2 separate regions of the Homo sapiens genome follow, and region 2 is linked to region 1. A link means that fine-mapping ties the variant in region 1 to the expression of a gene that starts in the linked region. Tissue or cell type: testis. Region 1 holds a variant in brackets; the other region holds the start of a gene. All regions are shown on one strand. Distances are from middle to middle.

What was found. PIP is the estimated chance that this variant, and not a neighbour inherited with it, causes the effect.
Region 2: it holds the start of GPC6, and the variant in region 1 is fine-mapped to the expression of GPC6 in testis (GTEx, PIP above 0.99).

The regions. Positions count from the first base shown.
Region 1 is chr13:93,511,345-93,522,477 of GRCh38, reverse strand. The region is part of intron 1 of GPC6 (glypican 6); the gene reads right to left. Among named protein-coding and RNA genes, the nearest start is that of GPC6, 290 kb to the right of the region's middle. The variant A/G (reference allele first, on the strand shown) is at 6,144.
Region 2 is chr13:93,220,274-93,231,406 of GRCh38, reverse strand. It overlaps GPC6 (glypican 6), which reads right to left and starts at 4,600. Exons shown (of 9, transcript NM_005708.5): 1 at 3,791-4,600. The coding sequence starts at 3,950. RefSeq lists silencers at 2,817-3,111, 7,331-7,516 and enhancers at 3,165-4,007, 6,414-7,364.

The DNA.
Region 1 (11,133 bases):
AACATTTGTCAGGGATGTTATTTAGCTAATTAATGGGAAAATAAGTAAGAAGTTACAACTAGTTCAATGGTGAATTCAAAAAACCACAAAAATGTTAGCAAAACTTAATGATGAAATGAATTATACATGAACACAAAACTGGATTATTCCAGGAATCGGAATGGGGTGAGATTGGAAGCTAAAAATCAGTTGTGCTTCTATGGGACAAAATTAATTTGCATGTCTACAGACAAGAATCATTTGCATTGCTATCAATTATCTCTAACCAACAGAGTTGTAAAATAGCTCAAAGATAATGACAGGCGCAGAGACCCCATATAATCAGATAACCCAGAGGGTGTGCCTAGAAACTGCTTAGTTTTCCACCAAAGATACCCAGCAATCATTTTGACTTGTTTCAAAGTCTGTCACACTTTTATCTAAAATATAAATTTAAGATAAAATGAAACAGCACAATAGAAAGTAATTGATACTTATTTTAAAAGGAAAGCTAAGGATAAAGGTGACTTAAATAAAACCTAGTCTTTCTATGTGTATCTAGAAAAGATTAACAAATTAGAAAAGGAAAAAGAAAGTCTATACCTAAAACCTAGCATATGATAAAATAAACTGCACTTATTGTCTTCTTCCCAAATTTTGGAGTTTTCCCATCATTAAAAGCTACCTGAAAATACACCCTCAACTATGTCATTATTTTAAACACATAGCTGGGGAATGAGCCCAATACCACTGGAGAACTTAATGTTAGCACAAGAAATGATGCCTTGCCACCAATCACCTCATATAAGTATGTTACAGTATATTATCTTAGTATTTGTCACAACCTGTTAGCATTTTTCAAGAGCAGTCATGCTGTATGAAGAGCCATGGAAGCCCATGGGGCACCCTCCTTCAGAAATAAGGCAGGCATTGTAGACAGTTCAAAGTAAAAGTGATAACTGTAAAAGCAATGGCTAATCAGCCTGCACCAGCGTTCACAAGCACCTGCCAACATAAGACAAGTAAGTTCTGAAGCATTAATAGGTCCAGAATAGTAGCACTGCTGGAAATCCCAGTGGCTGTCACATTTAAGTGATGAAATTAGTATATCAAGTAGCTTTACCAAGTATACTGGTCTATCGCATCAAGATAATTTCATTTAGTACATATACCACTTTCACCCTAAAAAAAAAGAAAAGAAAAGAAAATAAATCTTCCCCTGGAGTTAATTCTTAGACTTCTGTATCTCTCTTAGAAAGAAAATGCAATATTATTCCAGTTTAAGACTCTAGAATAAATTATCTCAACAGATTCCTAAAATCTGTTCAACTAGATGCTTTATAGGTGATGGTTTTCAGAGACAGCAGTATTCCACTAAAAGATTTCCTTATATTCCCTTAAATTTCAAGTACTAATGAAATTACTTCTTAAATACAAAATCTAACATATACGTGTACATTTCCATTGATAATCACAATTAGATTACTAAAGTTCTTATATTTTAAATGTAAAAGATAATGTAGAGATTACTTAACGTGACCTCCACACTCTATAGATGAAACTCTTTGGCTCACCTCATCAGTTCCGAGACAGAAGTAAAAAGGTGGGTTTCTGAACTCCAATATCATGTCATCTCCATGCCTGTATAGTTTGTCTATAAGTATATATAGTTTGTCTATAGTATAGTTTGTCTATAGTTTGTCTATAAGTTTATTATGTCATCTCCATGCCTGTATAGTTTGTCCATGTAAGTTATCTACTATGAAAAACAGTCCAAATTTATTATGTTTTCTACTTTATCTATACTCCATAAATGCTATTCACAGAAAATCACCAAAAGAACATGCTATTAAAGAATTAAAACACAGAGAATCTTTACATGTTAATTATATTTTTAAAAGACTTGTTTCAAAATTTTCCAACACTCTTAAAAATCTTCAAGTGTTTTTTTTTTTTAAAGTCTATTTCAGCAACTTGGCTTGTGAGGATACTTACTGATTCCTTTAAAGCAAAACTAATACTTATTAAAATGTTGCTCATTTGCAACTGGTCCTTTGATTGAAAAACATTAATGCATTTTTTTGAGAAAGTGACTTGTTAATAGGTCAATTTGTCACCTGGCAAAGAATTTAAGGAATCTGTAACTCACATGCTAATGGTCAATAACAAGCCTAGGGCAGCAAGTAAAATTTGTAGTCAACCAATGCTCCTCAAATCAAGGAAGATGGACCATCTGGTACCTGGATTGGACAATGCTATAATTTCGCACAGTCACCAGTAATATATCAGCTGCACTTTCCAAGTTGGTGGTATTCTGATAATATTTTAACTTGCTTCTAACAGCTGCAAATCAAAGCTTTTTAAGGTTCTTGAAAATGAAAACTAGAGCCAACCCAGTTGGCCTAATGTGTCTTAATCATTCATCACAAGTTTATATGCTGAAGTTTAGTAAAATCTATGATGAATGAACAGCTGACACTTTCTATGTTAGAATAGGCAAGAAAATTAAGATGTCAAATAAGTCTTGCAGAGAATAGTTACACTGTTTCATTACAAAATTCAATTTAATACAATTCTTAGCTGATGACAAAATTCGTTTCAGTTTTTATAAAAAACCATAGCAAAGCATTCTTTTAAAGACGTTGAATTTTCACATTTTCTGTTTCACAAAGAATACAGAGTCAAAGAATATAGAGTAACTTAGAAATATAACTTTTAGATTTTTCTTTTAATTACAGTCTGAGCCAGGCATGAAAGAGCCTCATCTATTTAGGCTCTATTGAATGGTTACCTGTTTCTCTAAGAGGGGAGTGTCATCCGCCTCCCAGAACCCAGCAGACTGGAATGCAATCAAACTCAAACATTGACTGTGATGCTAAGATGTGCTTTGGTGAGTGTTTTATTTTAACTGTCATAATCACATCAGAAAAAAATAATCTACTCAAGTGCAAATTAAAGTGTATCCCTTTTATTTTTTCCCTTCATCAACTCAGACATTATTATGCAGAAAGTGATTTTCAGGTTGAAGATCAGATTTTGTTTAGTGTTTCTATCTTGGCCTTGTACTAGGAAAATGTAGTTTAAGCTTTTTGTACATTGCTAATGTGTGGAAATTGCCCCACTTTTACGGAAGAATGTGTGTGTATGTGTGTGTAACAGAAACACACAGATGTGCATGTTTGCATATGTAACATCTTCTATAATTTGTTTAAAGTTCATTAAACTAATAAATGTTAAATGAGATAAAATTCTAAAACCTATTCTATAAATTGGAGGATGGTCAGTTTGAATGTAGAAGAATACAGAAAAGTTACACCAGTTTTGGTAGGTGCCTTAGGCAGAAGTAAGCAAACTTTTCTGCAAAAGGCCAGATAGTTTAAGCTTTAAATTTTAGAAAAATACTTTAGGCTTTTAATATTTTTAACTATTTCAGTCTTTGCGGTACATAAGATCTCTATTACAACTACTCAACTCTGCCTGTGTAGCTGAAATGACAGCAGCCATACACAATACATAAATGAATTAGTGTGGCTATGTTCCAATAAAACCTTATTTACTAATACTGTGTGCAAACTAGGTACGGCCTACTGACCTTAGTTTGCTAATCCCTGGTTTAGCCTAGAAATCCTGTTCTTTTATACTGATGTCTTACACTTTGTTAACTATCAACACAGTCCTGCATAATAAACACAATTTATATTGCTACTTGGGAAACAAAGTGCTTTTAAATCTTAATCATATTTAAGAATTACAGTAATTCTTTGAGAAAGGCCCTATTGCATTTACCATTTGCAGAGAAGAAAACAAAGGCTCACAGAGGCTTAACTACTGGCCCAAGAGAGTCCCAAAGCAAGTGTTATCTTCCCTCTGCTGGCATTATTTTGTAGCTCACTATGAGAAAACTTGATGTTTACTAAGATAACAGTTAAGGAACTTTGATTTCCCTAATGAAATGTTCAATTTATACATATTTTAAATATCAGAATATGAATTAGGATGTCAAAGGCTCTGTTTTCAAGAAGTGAAGCTAAGGATGAGAGAGGTGTCAAAGACGGTAGTAGGGTTTGCCTCCAGGTGTCTGATAGAGGTGTGACTAACAGATTGGAAAAGTGGAGAAGCAAGAAGAGTTGACGGAACTAGATTAAGGCCCATCTGTGCTCAGAAAAAGAGGCACACTTATAGGTTTACATTTGAATGTATCCACATAAAGAAAATAATTAAGGAAGCCGGGAAGTCTCCAAAACAGGACATAGATAATGATCAAAACTCTGTCTAGATAAGTTTTCAGAGAGGAAGTAGCATTTAACCACCATTTTCTCTTCGATAGACATAAAATTCAGGATTCTGTGAGCTCCTGTGCTCTGAGGCTCCTTTAAAAGAATCAACTTTGTATCCCAAACAAAACTGAAAAACTGTTTGATAAATGAATAAATTTGACATTCAAAACTCCAAGAAGCTACTACCTGGATGTAAGTATCATCTTACAGTTTTACTACATATACCCCTAAAAATAATAATAATAATATTAATAAGCAATTTCTTCCCTGAATTTTACTATAACTAAAATTAGAAGAGAGATTTGCTGAAAAGGAAAAATAGCCACTGATTTTAAGCATTGAATAGACTAAAATTGCTGACTTATGTGCTTTTTAAATGTGAACCTTATCTAATATGAAGGCATTTTCATGGCACTCCTTGTCACTCTACCCAAAGAAAGATTTGTATTCCCTCACTGGAGTTATTAAGAGCTCTTGCTGTAGTACATGCCAAGATAGGTTAACACCCACAATATACTGATGCTTGAAACAAACCTATGAAATGGTCATTTTTAAGTGATGTTCTGGGCAGATCTGACTAAAAAAATTACAACAGCCACTGAAGTCTAGTTGGAGTTAATTTCTCTCCAAATTAACTTCCCAAATAAAGCATAAAGAACATAAAAATGCAAAGAGCACCAAATGTGAATGAATTAATTATGGCGAATGGAAAAAGAATCTAATTTCAAACAAATAACAAACAAAACCTCCACTGAGTGATTCACATCATCTGAAAATTACAGCCATGAACTTCAAGAATTAAAGCAATTAAATTTTAAAAATGAATAATTTTCCCAAGTTAGCATATGAAAATGTAGCACTTCTTATTATCTGGTTGCCTGAAAAGGAGGCTTGGCCTTGAAAACACATTATCCCCAAAGGGCCATGGAAATTAAATATGAGGCAAGAAATCATATTATCTTACATTTGTTCTTCCTAAGTACATCTTCCTTAGATACTCCATCATTCCTGTGATGAAAGGTGTTTCTGAGACACAAGGTACAAGAGGAAAAGTATCAGGTGATTCTTGTTGCCTTATTAAACCTCATATTTCTCTTTAACGTTTGGTGACAATAGTACACAGTAATTCTCTCTTTGTCTATGAATGCATCTAAAAATAACAAGTGAGTTCAAAATAATTTTCCCTTAAAATCCACATCTTGCTTTTCTAGCAAGAGAGAGCTACATAATGCCTGGCATAGAACATGTATTCAAAGTCTCTTTGTACTATTGGTTAGCTTTGGCCCCACCACATACAGTCCTGACCAAGCTACTGATGGTAATGATCTTTCTAATTCAAAGAGACTGCTGCAAAACCTAGCTAACTGCATATCCACCCAATTCAAAAGCTGGAGGTGATTTTATAGTTTAAAAATTCAGAGGAGCCCACAGGCAGCTAAGCTACCAATTTCCTTCATCCCACATATATGTTCTTATACACCTGTTGCTCACAGAGCATAATATAAAAATGCAAAATAAATACCTTTTTGGTTTTGTTTTGCTTTGTGCATAGATAGGATATCCCATGTTGTTCTATCTTGAAGGGTTTCTTCTTTTCCTACTTTTATAAGTAATTATTTTTTTTATTTCCCATTAAAACTTAACTTACATTGATTTTTGCTTTTGTTCAGAAACCTTTTACTGGTGTTGAAAACCTATGCCTGTCTCTTGAAAAATGTATTCACAGCTTGTTTCCAATTGTACCTGTGCCCCACTTCCTGGCAAAACTCTCCTGGTAAATTGGCAGTATGGGAGGTCCACAATTCTGGGCATTCTTCCCTGCATATTCCAGAATGTTCTAACCCCAAGACCATATTTGATGAATAGATTGGGCTTGGCGACTTCATT[A/G]ATAAGGACTCCATTCAAGCATTCCATGTTAAGATATAAGGTTGCTAATGACACATGAAAAAGTGAGTGCAACATAGAAAACTGCACATCTGGAGAGAGTTGATAACATCGGTGCTGTGAAGATTTCTCTTTTGATGTGAACCTTTTACTCTACTCTTTTTACTGATGGGCTAGCTACTCCTCTAAAACACACACTGGCTTTTAAGATTTCAAACTTGCTGCTAATGAATTTTTCACATGGCAAGCTTCTACAGTAACAGAGTTCTGAAAGAGCTTTCACCAATGTTGCAAGAAAAGCTGTCGATCTCTAAATGGATTTTGATAAAACAAGTTAAAAAAATACCTTGGGAATTTTTTAGGAAATGACTTACATAAGCCACTATGTGAGTTTTGCTAGATATTTACTATTTTCCTTGGCTTTCTGCGTGTGTGCCTAGAGCTCAAAATTTCTATAGAATTTTTCTATAGATATGACTTTTTCTGAGATTTCAAGTACTTCATTTGTGGATCCTTAATAGTGAGTTTCACTTTGTATTTTATTTATGGTTAATTGTGTGTCTAAATACTCTACTACAAGATACTTGAGAGCAAGAGCATTTATTTAACATGATACGTCACTAGTCAGTATTTAAAAGACAGACTAGTAAGAATGAATATATTTTCAGTATTTATTTTGCCTTTGGAATTTTACTGGGTGACTTACATACAATTAATCATTTCATTTTCAGGACAAACCTATGAGGTAAGTGGTATTGCCATCATTTGCAATTGAAGAAACATAAGGCTCACAAAATTTAAATAATTTGCCCAAGTTTCTGAAGTTAGCCATTGGTGGAGGCAAAATCCAAGCTCCAATCCATCTCCAAAAGAAATTGCTGAATAGACATCTATTAAATGTATTATAAAAACATATTTGATTATCCCTACATAGCATGCATTACTTCATGCAATTTAAAAGAGCTATAAAAACAAATAAATGGTAACAGTCCAGATTAATGTCTTAGTTCAGGCTGCTGTAACAAGAAGATCATAGGCTGGGTGGCTTAAATAACTGAAATGTGTGTCTTAAAGTTCTGGAGGCTGAAAACTCCAAGACCCAGGTGCCAGCAGATTTGGCATCTAGTGAGGACCCTTCGCCTGATTTAAAGATGACCATCTTCTTACCGTATACTCACTCACATGGCAGAGAGAGGACAAAAGCGAGAGTGAGAGCAAAGACAGGCAGTGGAGATAGCAAGAGAGAAAGGAGACAAGCTCTCTGTTTTCTTGTAGGGGCACACAGATACTACCATGAGCCTCCACCCTCATCACCTGGTTACCCCACAAAGGCCCCCTCTCTAAATGCCATCACACTGGGGATGCGAGCTTCAATGCATGAATTTTGGGAGACACACAAATATTCAGCCCATAGCAATGAGTTATGTAATTTTCATATAACAAGCAATGCCAAATGTGTTTTTGTTTGTTTGTTTTGTTTGTTTGTTTTTTTCCTCACGACGACTCTACGTCCAATACAGGTTGGTAGGGGATTCTGTCCCTCATGAACACTCAATAATTCAGGCTAACTCATTCCCTTCTCTGAACAAATCCCAGTCTGACTTTTAAAGCCTCCATCTGGAAACGAGACAGTTCATTTCTACTCACATTTCATAGAAAAATAAATCATGTAGCCATACCTAACTTAAAAGGGAATAGTGAAATAAAATTCTAACATGTGCCCATACGCAGGAGAATCTGTATATGTGGGAGTAGTTCCAATGACCATTGCATATGCCTACCAAGGATGTGAGATGCTCTGAAAAGATAAATTATACTCACTGTGTATTTACAATACAGCCTCAAAGTTATCTGTTCCAAGGAGCTTCTGGCCCCATGTAGAGTTTTGCCCTAACATTTTTGGAGTCCATATTTATTCTTGTTCCTTAATGTTATTGAGTGGTTGTGAGTCTTATTTTCCCTTGAGAGAATATTATGAGAAAAGGTAAAATAGACCGCAAAACTGCTAACAGTTGACTCTTCTTGTATTCTGGGATTGAGTGCAGTAAGGCTCTCTAAACCAACAGAGCACCTATGGCTTCCCTCCTGCCACACAGACGTCTGTTCAGCCAACCAACTTCTCAAATAATCCAAGTCTTTCTGGTTACTAGTGAAAAGATGAATGTGACCAGGAGTGGTGGCTCACACCTGTAATCCCAGCATTTCGGGAGGCTGAGGCGGGTGGATCACTGAGGTCAGGAGTTTGAGACCAGCCTGGCCAACACGGTGAAACTCTGTTTCTACTAAAAATACAAAAATTAGCTGGGCGTGGTGGTGGGTGCCTGTAATCCCACCTACTTGGGAGGCTGAGGCAGGACAATCGCTTCAACCTGGGAGGTGGAGGTTGCAGTGAGCCAAGATTGCTCCATTACACTCCAGCCTGGGCAACGAGAGTGAAACACCGAAAAAAAAAAAAAAAAAAGCCATCATTCAGCAAAGGATTCGTTCATGGGATTTCATGCCACTGGTGTTTGGGAAAATCATCAGAGAGGCTGATTCTCAGCACTTACAACCCAAGGACTTTAATGAAGGGCTATAAAAATATTCAGTCTGCATAAAGTAGAGGTTTAGTCAGACAAGTCTGGCATCACAGAAATCGTGCAATCGTGCAATAGCTGTGTCCTTTGAGTGACTACCAAGAGACTGCAAAAGGGCAGGAGGAGTTATTGAGTAATTGCCTAAATCCCAAATCCAGGCTTTTATTTTAGAATATCTCTGGTGCATTATAATGAACACCACAAGGCAGAAGAACATGATAAGATTCACTTTGAGAATACCAACATTTACTAATTACCAGACACAAAGGTAAAACCTAGAATCATAGTCAAACAATATAAGGTGACAATAGTAAAATTACAATGAATTTTCAGGGCAAAGATCACCAATTTGATTTGGCTAGGTTTATGTTGAACACATGTATTTTACAATTACACAATTGAAAGAAGGCAGAAAATGAAAAGAAAACAAAAGGTCAATTGTAACTGTCATTGGTTTATCATCCCAGGGGCATCCGGGGACTGAGGTGAGGTGGTAAGAATGATTCTATTGATGAGAGTAAAATGTAGATTTAAAGTCTGAGCTGTAATAAAAAAGGTGGAAACTACTACACAAAGTGTTCATCTTACTCCCGCTTGATTCCCAACAGAAGCTACACTGGAGAGAGAACCAGTGAAAAGCAAAGATTAATTCCAGGGACTCAAGTTTGTAATCCAGTTTACAGCAATGGCTCAGTTTTTCAAGGACAATAGCTAACAAAGTCAAGTCCTCCTAGCATATGATACAGATCAGCCATGAATATCTAGCATAGCTAATTTACTCAAGTTAAATGGACACCTTGCACTGTAGTAGCCTTTTTAAATCTGATTTTCATATATACTTTAGAAAAAGTAGTTTTATCATTCTCAGTTCTATAATATCTCTGATATTATAGTTATCTGCTTTTGTGTATAGAAAATCCTTTTAGCATATTATTGTTTAATATCTAGATAATGCCAATTTTTGAAACAACCTACCATTTAGCTACAAATTTTTATCCTAAAATCAACCCACTTGCAGTTACCACATAACCTCACAAATAACTAGTATCTTCTTCCTTCTCCTAACCAAATTTTTCCCAACTCATTTAATGAGGCCAGCATCACCCTGATAACCAATATCAGATGACACAACAAAAAAAGAAAACTACTTGCCAATATCCCTAATGAACATAGATGTAAAAATCCTCCATAAAATACAAGCAAACTGAATCCAACAGCAAATCAAGAAGATGATACACCATGATCAAGTAGGATTTATAGCAGGACTGCAAGGATGATTCAAGATACACAAATCAATTAAGCTGATACATCATGTCAATAGAATGAAAGAAAAAACGATTTCAACTGACACACAAAAAACATTTTATATAATTCAATATCCCTTTAGGATTAAAAACAAACTAAACATAGACAGAACACACCTCAATATAACAAAGGCCATATATGACAAACACACAACTAACAGCATACTAAATGGGGAAAAGTTGAAATCCTTTCCTGTCAGAACTGGAACAAGTCAAGGATGCTCACTTTCACTACTTTTATTCAGTATAGCCCTGGAAGTCTTAGCCAGAGCAATCAGAAAGAAATAAAATGCATCCAAATTGGAAAAGGAGAGGTCAAATTGTCCATTTTTGCTGATGATATGACCTCATATTTAGGAAAGCCTGAAGATTCCACCAAAATATCTCTTAGATTTGATAAATGAATTCAGTAAAGTTGTAGAATACAAAAGCAATGTACAAAAATTTGTAGCATTTCTGTACACCACTAATGATCTAGTCAACAAAGAAATCAAGCAGGCAATCCCATTTAAAATAGCTACAAAAACAAACAAACAAAAAAACCCCAAAGCCTTGGAATACATTAAACAAAAGGGGAAAGATCTATACAAGGCAAACTACAAAACTTGGGTGAAAGAAATTGAAAAAACACAAACAAATGGCAAAATATCCCATGCTCATGGATGGGAAGAATCAATATCATTAAAATGACCATATTGCCCAAAGCAATCTACAGATTCAATGCAATCTCTATCAAAATAACAATGTCATTCTTCATAGAATTAGAAAAAACGATCCTAAAATTCATATGGAACCAGACTCCAAATAGCCAAAGCAATCCTTAGCAAAAAGAACAAAGCTGGAAGTATTCCATTACATCACTTCAAAAATTATTACAAGGCTAAAGTAGCCAAGACACCACAGTATTGGAAAAAAGTAGATACACAGACCAATGAAACATAATAGAGAACCCAGAAATAAAGCCACATATTTAGAGCCAACTAATCTTTGACAAAGCCAAAAAAATTTATATTGGGGAAAGGAAACCACCTTCAATAAATGGGAAAATTGAATATCCATACACAGAAGAATGAAACTAGACCTCTATTTCTCACTGTACAAAAATCAACTCAA
Region 2 (11,133 bases), 290 kb after region 1:
ATATATATACATATATATATATATATGTATATATATATATATATACGTATATATATATATGTATATATATATATACGTATATATATATATATGAAATGAGGAAAGAATAGATTTTGCATGCATTCATTCAAAATAAATGGTGAATGTTTAATACTGTAAGGCAGTGAGCCAAGTTAGGTATATAGACCCTGGAGTCAGAGTGCCTGGGTTTGAACTGCAGCCTCATTACTTACTAGTAGAGTCACCCTTAGGTAAGTTTATTAAAGTTCCTGTCACACAGCCTTTTTATCTATAAAATGGGGTTAATGTGTAGTATCTACTAAGTTATTGGAAGAATTCAGTAAGGTGATATTATAAAGGTAATAATTTTTAAGTAGGTGATGGGCACATAGTAAATTCTATATAAGAGATTGTTAAATAATGTCACATTACATAAGTAATGAAAACATGATCATGTAGGCCAATAAGTCACTGTTAACTACAAAGTGTTATAATTAATGATCCTAGCAAGACTCAAGGCATAAAACAGTGGCAGAGTAAGCCTGAAACAACATTCTCTGAATTTCCCAGAGTTTTAAGCAGGTGCTATTTTCAGTGGTAGAGTTCCTTTAGAAGTTTAGAGCCACCAACATGAGGAGGATTGGAAACTTAGGTCATAATTCTGATGAATGAGGAAAGACTAGAATGTTTCACACTGACCTTTGATGAGAGTAACTCTCCTAACAAAGAACCTGATGATTCACTGCTCAGTATCTTCCCAGAGGATAGAACAAGAAAAAATAAGCAAGCATATTGTGAAGGCTTTTGGCTAGATATCTGGAAACATTTCTATACCACAAGAATTGCTAAATATTAGAATGGATTGCTGAAAGGGGATCAAGAGTCTACTCCTTTGGAAGTTTTTCAAACAAGGATAAATAGTCTATCTGATCTCCTTGCCATGGTTTAAAATCAGTGCTGAGTGAAAACTGATGGTGCAAACTGCCCCTTGAAGGCCTCCTCCTTCCCAAGCATTCTCTGAAAGCATAACTTTATATATTACCTGTGATACTTCCTCATCTGTTGGGTTTCCATTCTATCCTAGAATAGAAAAGGGCAACACTATTTCACAATTGTGAGTTCTGAGTAAAACTTTGATAATGTCATGATGAAACATAATGTCCTTATTACTTCTCAAGTTATTTCACTAAGCAAGCTACCTGCAAATAGCTTTCAATTAGAAACAGCTGTCATGAATCTGAAGTCTGAACAGCAATTCTTTTAAATTTATGTGCCCTGGCAGATTGAAGACACATGAAATTCTTCAAGCAAACCATTAGATGCCCAATCAAGGCAAAGGATAAAAAAGAGTTTAAGAAAAGATAACCACTTACACTAGATAATTAAATGTAAACAGTATCAAGAACTAGGGAGGAGAGATAGAGTGTGTTCCTGTAACAACAGGGTATATTTCCTAAGTGATTATTAAAACAGCAATAGGTAGCATTAAGTAAAGTTGATTTTGAAAAAACAAGTATATCCTTAAAAAACACAATTATCTTTCAATTCATTATTTTCCTATTAAATGTGCCTCTGACCCTGTGGTGACCTGCATCTTGATTATGTCTACCAGCATCAAAGGACACAAGGCTTAAAGCAAAGTTAACAGTATGCCCTTACTCATGGAAAGTAGGTGAGTTTAAAAAAAAAAAAGTGCACACATTTTAGAAATTCATAGCTAATAAGCAAACACTGTAATTGTAAAAAGGTGGGGAGGAAACCAAAAACAAAAACAAAAACCTCTTTAGTTAAATATCCACCGAAGAATTTACATGAACCCCTGGGAATGTTCTCAACAAACATTCATGGTGACTACAGAAATTGTTTTACACTGAAAATCTTCACTTTGATATTAAAGAGATGTGCCTGATGCTGAGGATGAACTCTAGTCTCCTGAGAGTCCCATTATCCTCTAAAGAATACCGAAGCAATTTAAAAATACCTAACTATTTTCTTCTTTGAGACATCTTATCTGAAATCATGTTGGGAAATATCTTGTGTGCTTAAAAGATACCGTTTGAAAAAGCCCAGATTAAAGGAGAAAAAGTTCCTAGAAGAAGTGATCCATACTATAAACCTTTTAAAAAGTTGAATTCCCTGAGATTTGGGGAGGGAAAAAAAAAAGCGAAGCTGATCCTTATCAATTAATTAAAAAGAATGAAATAACAGTAGACAAAGGAGAAGGAGAGTTAAGAAACTTAAGGAGCTGTGGGGACAGTCGCTCTCTATTCATTGATTAACAAATTAAGGAGTTCTGGAAAAGAAGGAAGAAGTAACAAGGATAGAAAAGTAGGCTTATAATTCACCACAGATTCTAACTTAGACTCAGCAAAGGGAATGTCTGGCTCTGAACTGAAAAAGCTCCTTCTATATAATGAGCGTGGTAATTTGCGCCTCTTTTTTTCCCCCTTTGCCAATGCTCAAATTTATTTAAATGTGTTCATTTCAGTGTAAGTAAAAACCCTCACTTCTACAGCTTGAAAATCATAAGAAAATAGTAATTCCTCAACGTATCGAAACTGTGATGTTCTAAGATATCTGCAAAATGCTTTTCATCCATCCACCAGTTATTTGGCAAAAAGCAGACAGAGGCTGGTGGAAATTCAGCGTTTTGACTTGACGATCTGAGGTCACTAAGGACTTCAGCTGCCCGGTTTGAGCAGCCCGCGCCCTCGCAGCATCTCCTGGCCTCCCTCGGCCTCTCTCAGTTCTGTTCTTTAGCAGCCAAAGGATTATCTCTCCCCGACACGTTTCATTCACAGAGCCCCAGAGAAGCTCGGATTCGGTTGGAGCTAAGAGCCGGAAAACAAGCACCCAGACTGCCGCGCAAGTTGTCGGAGACCAAGTGCTACACACACTGGCGCCGAGAGAAAGGGTGGGCGCTCTCAAGCTCTTGGTGGAGCAATGCCAGTGGCCGGGCATGCGGGGGACACGGGGCCCCCGAACCCGGACCCGAATCCCCAGCTGAGCCACCCGCTAAAGTTGGCTGTTCGCTGGCAGACGAGGCCGGCTCCAGACCGGGTGGCAGGGTGTCCCCGGGCCCTGAGTGGCCAACAGCAACTGGGGAAGCACTGAGGAACCCTAACGGGAAAGCCCGCCCCACATCTGAAACAGGCAGCCCGTGAAGTCCCCAAACCAGCCTTGAAACGCCGGCGTCCAGAGGCCAGGTCCCCGGCGAGGGTCCCTCCCAGCCTTGCCCGCCCCCGGCCCGAGCGCCGGGCGCTCTGTCGCCCGAAGGACGGATAGGGGAGAGAGGGGCTGGGGGAGCCCTCCGCGTCTCTCCACCGCCCCTGCCGGCGCAAGGGCGGGAGTGGAGAAGGCGCCACTCAGACTGTGGCGCTGGGCAAACTGCGGTCGCAGTTCTTCCAAGTTTGCCCGAACCAGAACGCGGAGTGAGCGCCCGGCTCGGCTCTCCGTCTGCGCCTTGCAGCCGCCCCGGAGTGACCCGGGCTCCCTGGCCAGCCGGGCCTGAGCCATCAACTAAGGGGTAGAAGGGCGCGAGAGCAGCGGGAGGCGGGAGCCAGGGTGCTCCCGCGTGTGCACACAATGAGGCGGCGGAGACGCACACCTTCCCCCGCCGAAGAAGCCGCAGGAGCATCCGCCGCCCAACACGGAGACGCGGAGTCCCATAGCGGTGGCAGAAAGTGAGCACCAACTCAGCAACAGGGGGAAGGAAGGGGACGCCGGGCGGCCAGTGGGACGTGCGGCAGCCGAGGGCTGCAGCCTGCCCCTGCAGCGCGCCCGCGCTTACCTGCGATCTCCTGGTAGGGGATGTCCGCCAGGCTGAATCCCTTGGCACCGTACGCCTGGCGGACCTCTCCGCAGCTCCGAGCCTTCACATCCGCCCCGGCGGGGAGGGAGAGCAGCAGCCCCAAGAGGGGAAGAATCACAGCCCCGATCCAAGAAGGCATGGTGCAACATACAAATCCAGCTCGGTAAACCCCACGGCCGGTGCGCTCTTCACCTTGCCCCTCAAGCCGAAAGCCCGCCAGAGGCAGCGGCGCGCTCCTCGCCGCTGCCCAGCGTCACCCCCTTCTGCCAGCCGAGGGGACGAGCAGCGCAGCCCTCTGGACTGCGCTCAGCAAACTTTTATAAGCCAGATGGACGATGGCAAGCCAACAAGGGCTGGCTGGGAAGGCTGCTGCCTTGCTCCTCTAGCCCCCAGATGGAAACGGTGCAATCAAAACGAGGAAGAGAAGGAAAAGAAGTGTTTAAAAAACCACCATGGGGGTTCAGAGCTGCAATCCGAGTTCCGAGCCGCAGAATCCTGGAGCGCTGCGGGCTCGGCTCGCCGGAGTGTGCGGCAAAGGTGGGAGCGCGCGCCGGCTCCCCCGGGAGGGAGATGGACAAGCGAGAGCGAGTGTGTATGCGCGCGTGTGTCTGTTGGTGTGAGCTCGAGGTTCTTGGGGATGTGTGTGCGTGGAGGTATGTGTTGGGGATATACGAGATCTAGGGGAAACCTCAGCTTAACACAGGCTGTGGGAGCCTGTGAGAGTCCTCCTGAAATAGGAAGAGAGAAATCCTGGAGACAGTCACTGGAGGCAAGAGGGAAGGAGAAAGGAGGGGGGAGAAAGAAACGTGCTACACATTGCACAGCCGAAATTCACAGGCCGAGTCAAAGGCAAAACCTGGACTGGATCTCTTCCTAGTCGGTAGAAAGGGGAAAAAAAGAAAAAGAAACGTACCTATTTTCTTATTCACTTCACATCCTTTATACCGATCTGAAATGACATCAATAAACAATCTAGAAAGACAAGGTAATTTTAAGTCATTAACATGTTATTAAGCTGTATTTTTATGGAGGTAAAGGATAACGCAGTTCCAATTGTTGCTCTTAATATGTGTCCCTGACCTACTGAAACACAAAGCCAGAGTGGAAATAGTCATAGACGGGAGTTCATGGGTGGCAGAGCACAATCACGGCTCTAACTAGTTGCCTAATTTCTGTTTGACTTTGTTTTTTTCTAAAGGCACACATTACAGACTGGTAGTTCTTAATTTTTAAAGGTTTGGTTCTAGACTCAACAATTTCCCCTTTTTTTATTTCAAATATCTCATAGCCTTCGATCAGAAATCATTATGCTTAGGTTTCTAATGTGTGGAGGATCGGGAAAGCTAACAACCAGACCACAGAAGCAACAAGAAAAGGAGAGCACAAGGGTCAGAGGTGCATAAAGGGACATAATGGGGGAAGGGAGGTGATTCCTTCCCTCTCACTAGATGCCCTCACATAGTAGACTTAACATTTTCTTCCAAGTTAACATAATTCTCAAGTGGAGAATCAATCCAATTTCTTCTTCCTGTCTCCATTTACACTGATGTTCTGTGAACGGGATAAAAGTGAAAATTCAGGTTTGCCTAATTGACTTTGTTATGCTAATGGACGCACTAAAGTCAGCTGGCAGAAGTGTGTGTTGAAACCCAGAGCTCCTGAAACTACTAAGATAGTTTAATGAAAACCAAGACAAAATAATAATAATAATAGTGTTTATTCACTTACGTGGCTATGTGTCATAGGTCAGCACATTATTCACAAACTACTACAAGGTAATGCACAGTTTTGTGGAGCTCACCTATGAAGCTACACATGAAGATGTTTTCCTGATGATGATATGAATGACCAGAATGACTCATGAAGTTTAAATCTTTGAGTTTGTCATTATCATCACAACATATTAGGTACATTGTCTTCCTCTCTTTAATAAATTCCCCCTCTCCTAACCACCAAAAAGACTCTCAAGATTCAACCTCATTTAACCTTTCCAAACGCTTTAAAAATGAAGTCGACTTATTTACAGAGCCACTTTGTCTTCTTCAAACTCATAGGTCAAGACAAAACAAAACCAAAAAAAAAAAAAACAAAACAAAACAAAAAAAAAAACTCCATAGCTAAATCTTTCTGAAAACGCAACACACTTAACTTTTTTTCTCTTAAAATTTTAGCACAGTTTTTTGCTTTCACAATATTTATGCTAACTGGCAGATCTTAAATCACTGAACTTATTTTCCCTCAAGTCGGAAATCAAGATAAAATATATTCTGGTTATGTTTGTGGACAAACGGTGAGGTTGATAGGCTCAGGAATTGCAGTCAAGTTATTACTTCTGTCATATTTGACAACGTGACTTCCTTCAAACTTCTCTTTGTATCATAGTAAAGCATTATGCACTCCAGAGGAAGAGGGTAAAAACACACACTTCCTGTCCTACCACCTTATCCTGGGACTCATTGTAATTTACCCTGACTCAGTATAGCAGATAATTCATTATTTTAAATGGAGGTAAAGGAAGAATGGGTAAAAGCATAGTATATGTGGTTTTAAATTATTTGAAGATCAGCTAATTGTTAAGTATTGAATGAGCACTCAATACAACTTTATAGCACTAGACTATTGCACACCGTCCCTATACTTATAAAATGATCTTAGGATTTGTGGCAAAGATATTACATGAGACGAATGACTAAATAGATTAGTTTAATTCCATCAGGAGAGTCAAATAGTTTAGGGTAGGTTTGTGAACTCAAGTCAGACCAAAGAATTAGATAACTTGCTTTACTGGTGACCTTAACCCTGCCTGGTCCATTTGTTGAGTAATGTCACACTGTTTGCAGTGGTGTAAGAGACAAAGTCAAACATTCCAGTTAACACTGAGAGCCACAGCAGGAGCCTAGACAAGGGATTGGAATGAGAATGGAATGTTATGGAAGTTCCTGGAAGAGGCCTGACCAGACAGGAGAGAGGTCATATGGAGGAGCAGGCATCTGGTTTAGACAAAAAGGTCAGCTAATGGCTGGAATCCTAGCTGTAGTATTCATCTTGTGTGTAGTAGGAAAAAAGAATATGGATAAATGCCATACAAGAGGAAGCAAACGAGGCCAGGCACGGTGGCTCATGCCTATAATCCCAGCACTTTGGAAGGCCGAGGCAGGCAGATCACCTGAGGTCGGGAGTTTGAGACGAGCTTGACCAACATGGAGAAACCCCGTCTCTACTGAAGATACAAAATTAGCTGGGCGTGCTGGCACGTGCCTGTAATCTCAGCTCCTCGGGAGGTTGAGGCAGGAGAATCACTTGAACCTGGGAGGCAGAGGTTGCGGTGAGGCGAGATCGTGCCATTGCACTCCAGACTGGGCAACAAGAAAGAAACTCCGTCTCAAAAAAAAAAAAAAGGCCGGGCGCGGTGGCTCACGCCTGTAATCCCAGCACTTTGGGAGGCCGAGGCGGGCAGATCACGAGGTCAGGAGATCGAGACTATCCTGGCTAACACGGTGAAACCCCGTCTCTACTAAAAATACAAAAAATTAGACGGGTGTGGTGGCCGGCACTGCAGTCCCAGCTACTCAGGAGGCTGAGGCAGGAGAATGGCGAGAACCCGGGAGGCGGAGCTTGCAGTGAGCCGAGATCCCGCCACTGCACCCCAGCCTGGGTGACAGAGGGAGACTCCGTCTCAAAAAAAAAAAAAAAAAAAAAGCAAACAAATAGCATGAGGTAAACGGATACCTAGAATAGGACGATGGAAAATGGAAAGATGTAGATAGATTCTGAGGAAAGGATTGGCAGGAGTTGGTGCTTGGTTCAATACACAAGAAGAATTACTAAATATTTATTTTAAGATTGTGTCTCTGCTGGGTGTGGTGGCTCACGCCTGTAATCCTACCACTTTGGGACGCTAAGGAGAGTGGCTTGCCTGAGCTTCGGAGTTAGAGACCAGGCTAGCCAACATGGCGAAACCCCTTCTCTACTAAAAATACAAAAAATTCGCTGGTGTGATGGTATGTGCCTGCAGTCCCAGCTACTTGGGAGGCTAAAGCAGGAGAATCCTTTGAACTCTGGAGGTGGAGGTAACAGTGAGCAGAGATCACGCCACTGCACTCCAGCCTGGGAGAAAGAGTGAGACTCTGTCTCAAAAAAAACAAAACAAACAACAACAAAAACAAGACAAAAAAAAGATTGCATCTCATTAGGAAAATATGGTACGTTTAATAAAAGACAATACAACTCCTGTTTATACAGTACTTTCACATCCCAGCTGGTTTTCACAACAACCCGTTTTGGGCATCACATGAATGGAACCTCAGAGACTTTCAGTTGTAGAGAAAAATAGACACAGTCTTGAAGAGCAGCCATAGGTGACAGACGAGTCGTGCAGCCCCTGTCAGTCACATATCCCACAGCCATCGCCCTTTCTTTTTTGCTTCTCTAAGACTGATTATGTCAGGGGGCATTGTGCTCACCACCAAGGGATGAATCACAATTAGCACTTTTCCCTGGTGTAGGGGTGGGTGTAAGACCCATTTCTAGCCAATGTGATTTATGGAGATTTCTGAAAAAAAAAAAAAAAAAAAAAGTGTTTTCCCTGATTAAAGGAGCAGAAGGGCCATTTTGCCTCAGCCTCCTGCCTTCTTAGAGCTACACAGCCATCTTTTGCGTAAGAGACAAGACATTGCTAGAAGACAGACAATGACAATGGAGGGATGCAAAGAACCTTGAGTTCCTATTTGAGTCACCAAACCAGCCTTAGGACTTCCAACTTCTGGACTTCTTGTTAAATAATCAATAAATATCCTGTTGTTTACACCATTGTTAGTTGGTTATTCTACTGTTTACAAGTAAAAGCAACTTAACCTATACACCAAACTCAATGAATAATAAGAAAATTTAAAGGCAAGAGACAGTGAATAGTTGCAAAGGTAAGAAGAGAACAAAAACATTAGGTAGCATCGTGGAACCCAGGTGAGGAGATTTTCAAACATAAAACAAATTGCAGTGGACAAGAAAGAGATGGAGATAATGGTACTTGGACAATGATAAGGAAGCTTACTGGAAATTTTGAGAGAAACATTTTAGTATAGTAAACTGGGTGGATGCTAAACCACATGGAATCGTGTGTGAAGTAGGTGGAAAGAATATGGAAATACCAGGTAAAACTGATTAGAATGTGGTAACTGTATGTGGAAGGGGCAGAGAGGTAGTCAGGAATGCTTTCCAGAAGTTTCTAAAACTTCAGGGAAGAATGAGTGGACATAAAAAGAGAATGAAATCCAATATGATCTTACTGGGTTGGTTGATTTTAAATTTTTTTTCTCTTATCTGCATTTTTCATGTTTTCTACAGTAAAGATGAGTCCTTGGTTATGAGACAAAAAATATTGTTTTGACATGAATATGTCACACGTTTAACATAAATACAAATTATAGCATTTGGTTCATGTTTTACAAAATAAAAAGGTCTTACCCTATCTCATGTAAGTAAAACAATTGGCTGTTAATATGTTTCTGAATCAAATAATAACTCTGAAGTATGAAATGTCTTGTGTTAATTTTTTAAAAGCCTTGGGTTTATAAAAAAAATAAAAAGCAGAGCTACAGCAGAATTTATCATCCTTTTGCTCAGTTATAAAAATCATGAATGAAAATAATAGGTGAATTTTAGTTTTTTCTTAGTATTTTTTAGATCAAAGTAGGACAAATAACTTCAAATAAAATCTTAGGAAAACAGGAGAATGGACTTCAAGTGTCTATTCCACATCTCAGCTTGGCACAAATCAAAATCGCTTAGTTAACCTGCCTCTTGAAAAACAGGGCCTGTAATGAAAAAGCTGTCAGAAATTTAACAACAGTAGCTCTGCCAGGTGCCTGGATAATGGGAAGGTTGCTGAGTTACAGAGAAAGAAAAGGTAAACCTGGGTGAATAATGACCAGAAATGGTGAAAATCTTTCATTTCCATCTTATGGTTTATATCCAATGAAATACTAATAGTTCATTTAACATTTATTGAGCCTTAAACATATACCTAGTGCTAATATAAACCAATTAAAATTATATCTTTAGGGCAGCTGAGAACAAACTGGGTTACTAATGATCTCTTGGGGGGAAAACCAAACACCATGGGGCAGCAGATTCTTCTTGTCTTGCAATATTCTTCTAAGACTCTGAAGCCAGAACTGTTTGGCTTCAAGGAAGGGAATCATGTGATCTACTTAATCAGATTTTCTCCTAAAAGTTATGACAGGGTTTATCCAAGAGAATTGAAAGGACTCTAATTATTTAATTATGTTTAGTCTTCATATATGTCAGAAACTTAGACAATAAAAATATTCCATATAATCTTAAGATTTACTCATCGTTACCTAAAATACTACTATCAATAGTCAAGGACACAGAATAGAAAATGTATTAAGATATCACAATGATTTAAAATACTATTTTCAGGCCAGGTGCAGTGGCTCACACCTATAATCCCAGTACTTGAGGCCAGGAGTTTGAGACCAGCCTGGGCAACATATCGAAATCCTATTTCTACAAAATACACAAAAATTAGCTGGGTGTGGTGGGGTGCACCTATAATCCCAGCTACTTGGGAAGCTGAGGTGGGAGGATCACCAGAGCCTGGGAGGTCAAGGGTGCAGTGAGTGGTGACAGTGCACTGCATTCCAGCCTGGGTGACAGTAAGAGCCCATCACAAAAACTAAAATTAAATAAAATACTATTTTTAAATTTTCATATATATTAATGACCCAGGAGTCTACTCTTCATTGATTCTAAGTGATTTTCATGCCTAGAACTACATCTTAGGTATTAAATATATTTAAATATTGAGTAACCAAATATTTACTTTCAAAAATTGCTGTTAAGACTATGCCTAGGAACAATCTTGACAAATGTACTACTGGCTAAGCATCATTTCATAACATCATTAGGAAAGTGTATTGCATAGCAGGAAGAGTTTCATTTTGACTTGAAGGCTCACAATATTAATAGATGCGTTTGACAATGCCATTATTTGAAGCTCACACATTTTTGAAGTGTTTCCAAATCAGATATGTAAATGTAAGAGTGACAAAGGTGAAAAACCTATCACAAATGAATAAACTTGCATTTTTGTAGTTAATAAAAGATCGTCTAACTTTGTCTTACTTGTTATAAATTCAGATATTAATGTTATGAGAGATGATTCTGTAGCTAAGCAGTAAATTTGACATACCTGGATTATTAAAACCATGCTTCTTGCCAGTCATTATTCTGGTTGTTTGGCTTTTGTGAAGGATGAATGAAGCTTTGCATAGTTTTTGGATCATCTGGCATCATAAACA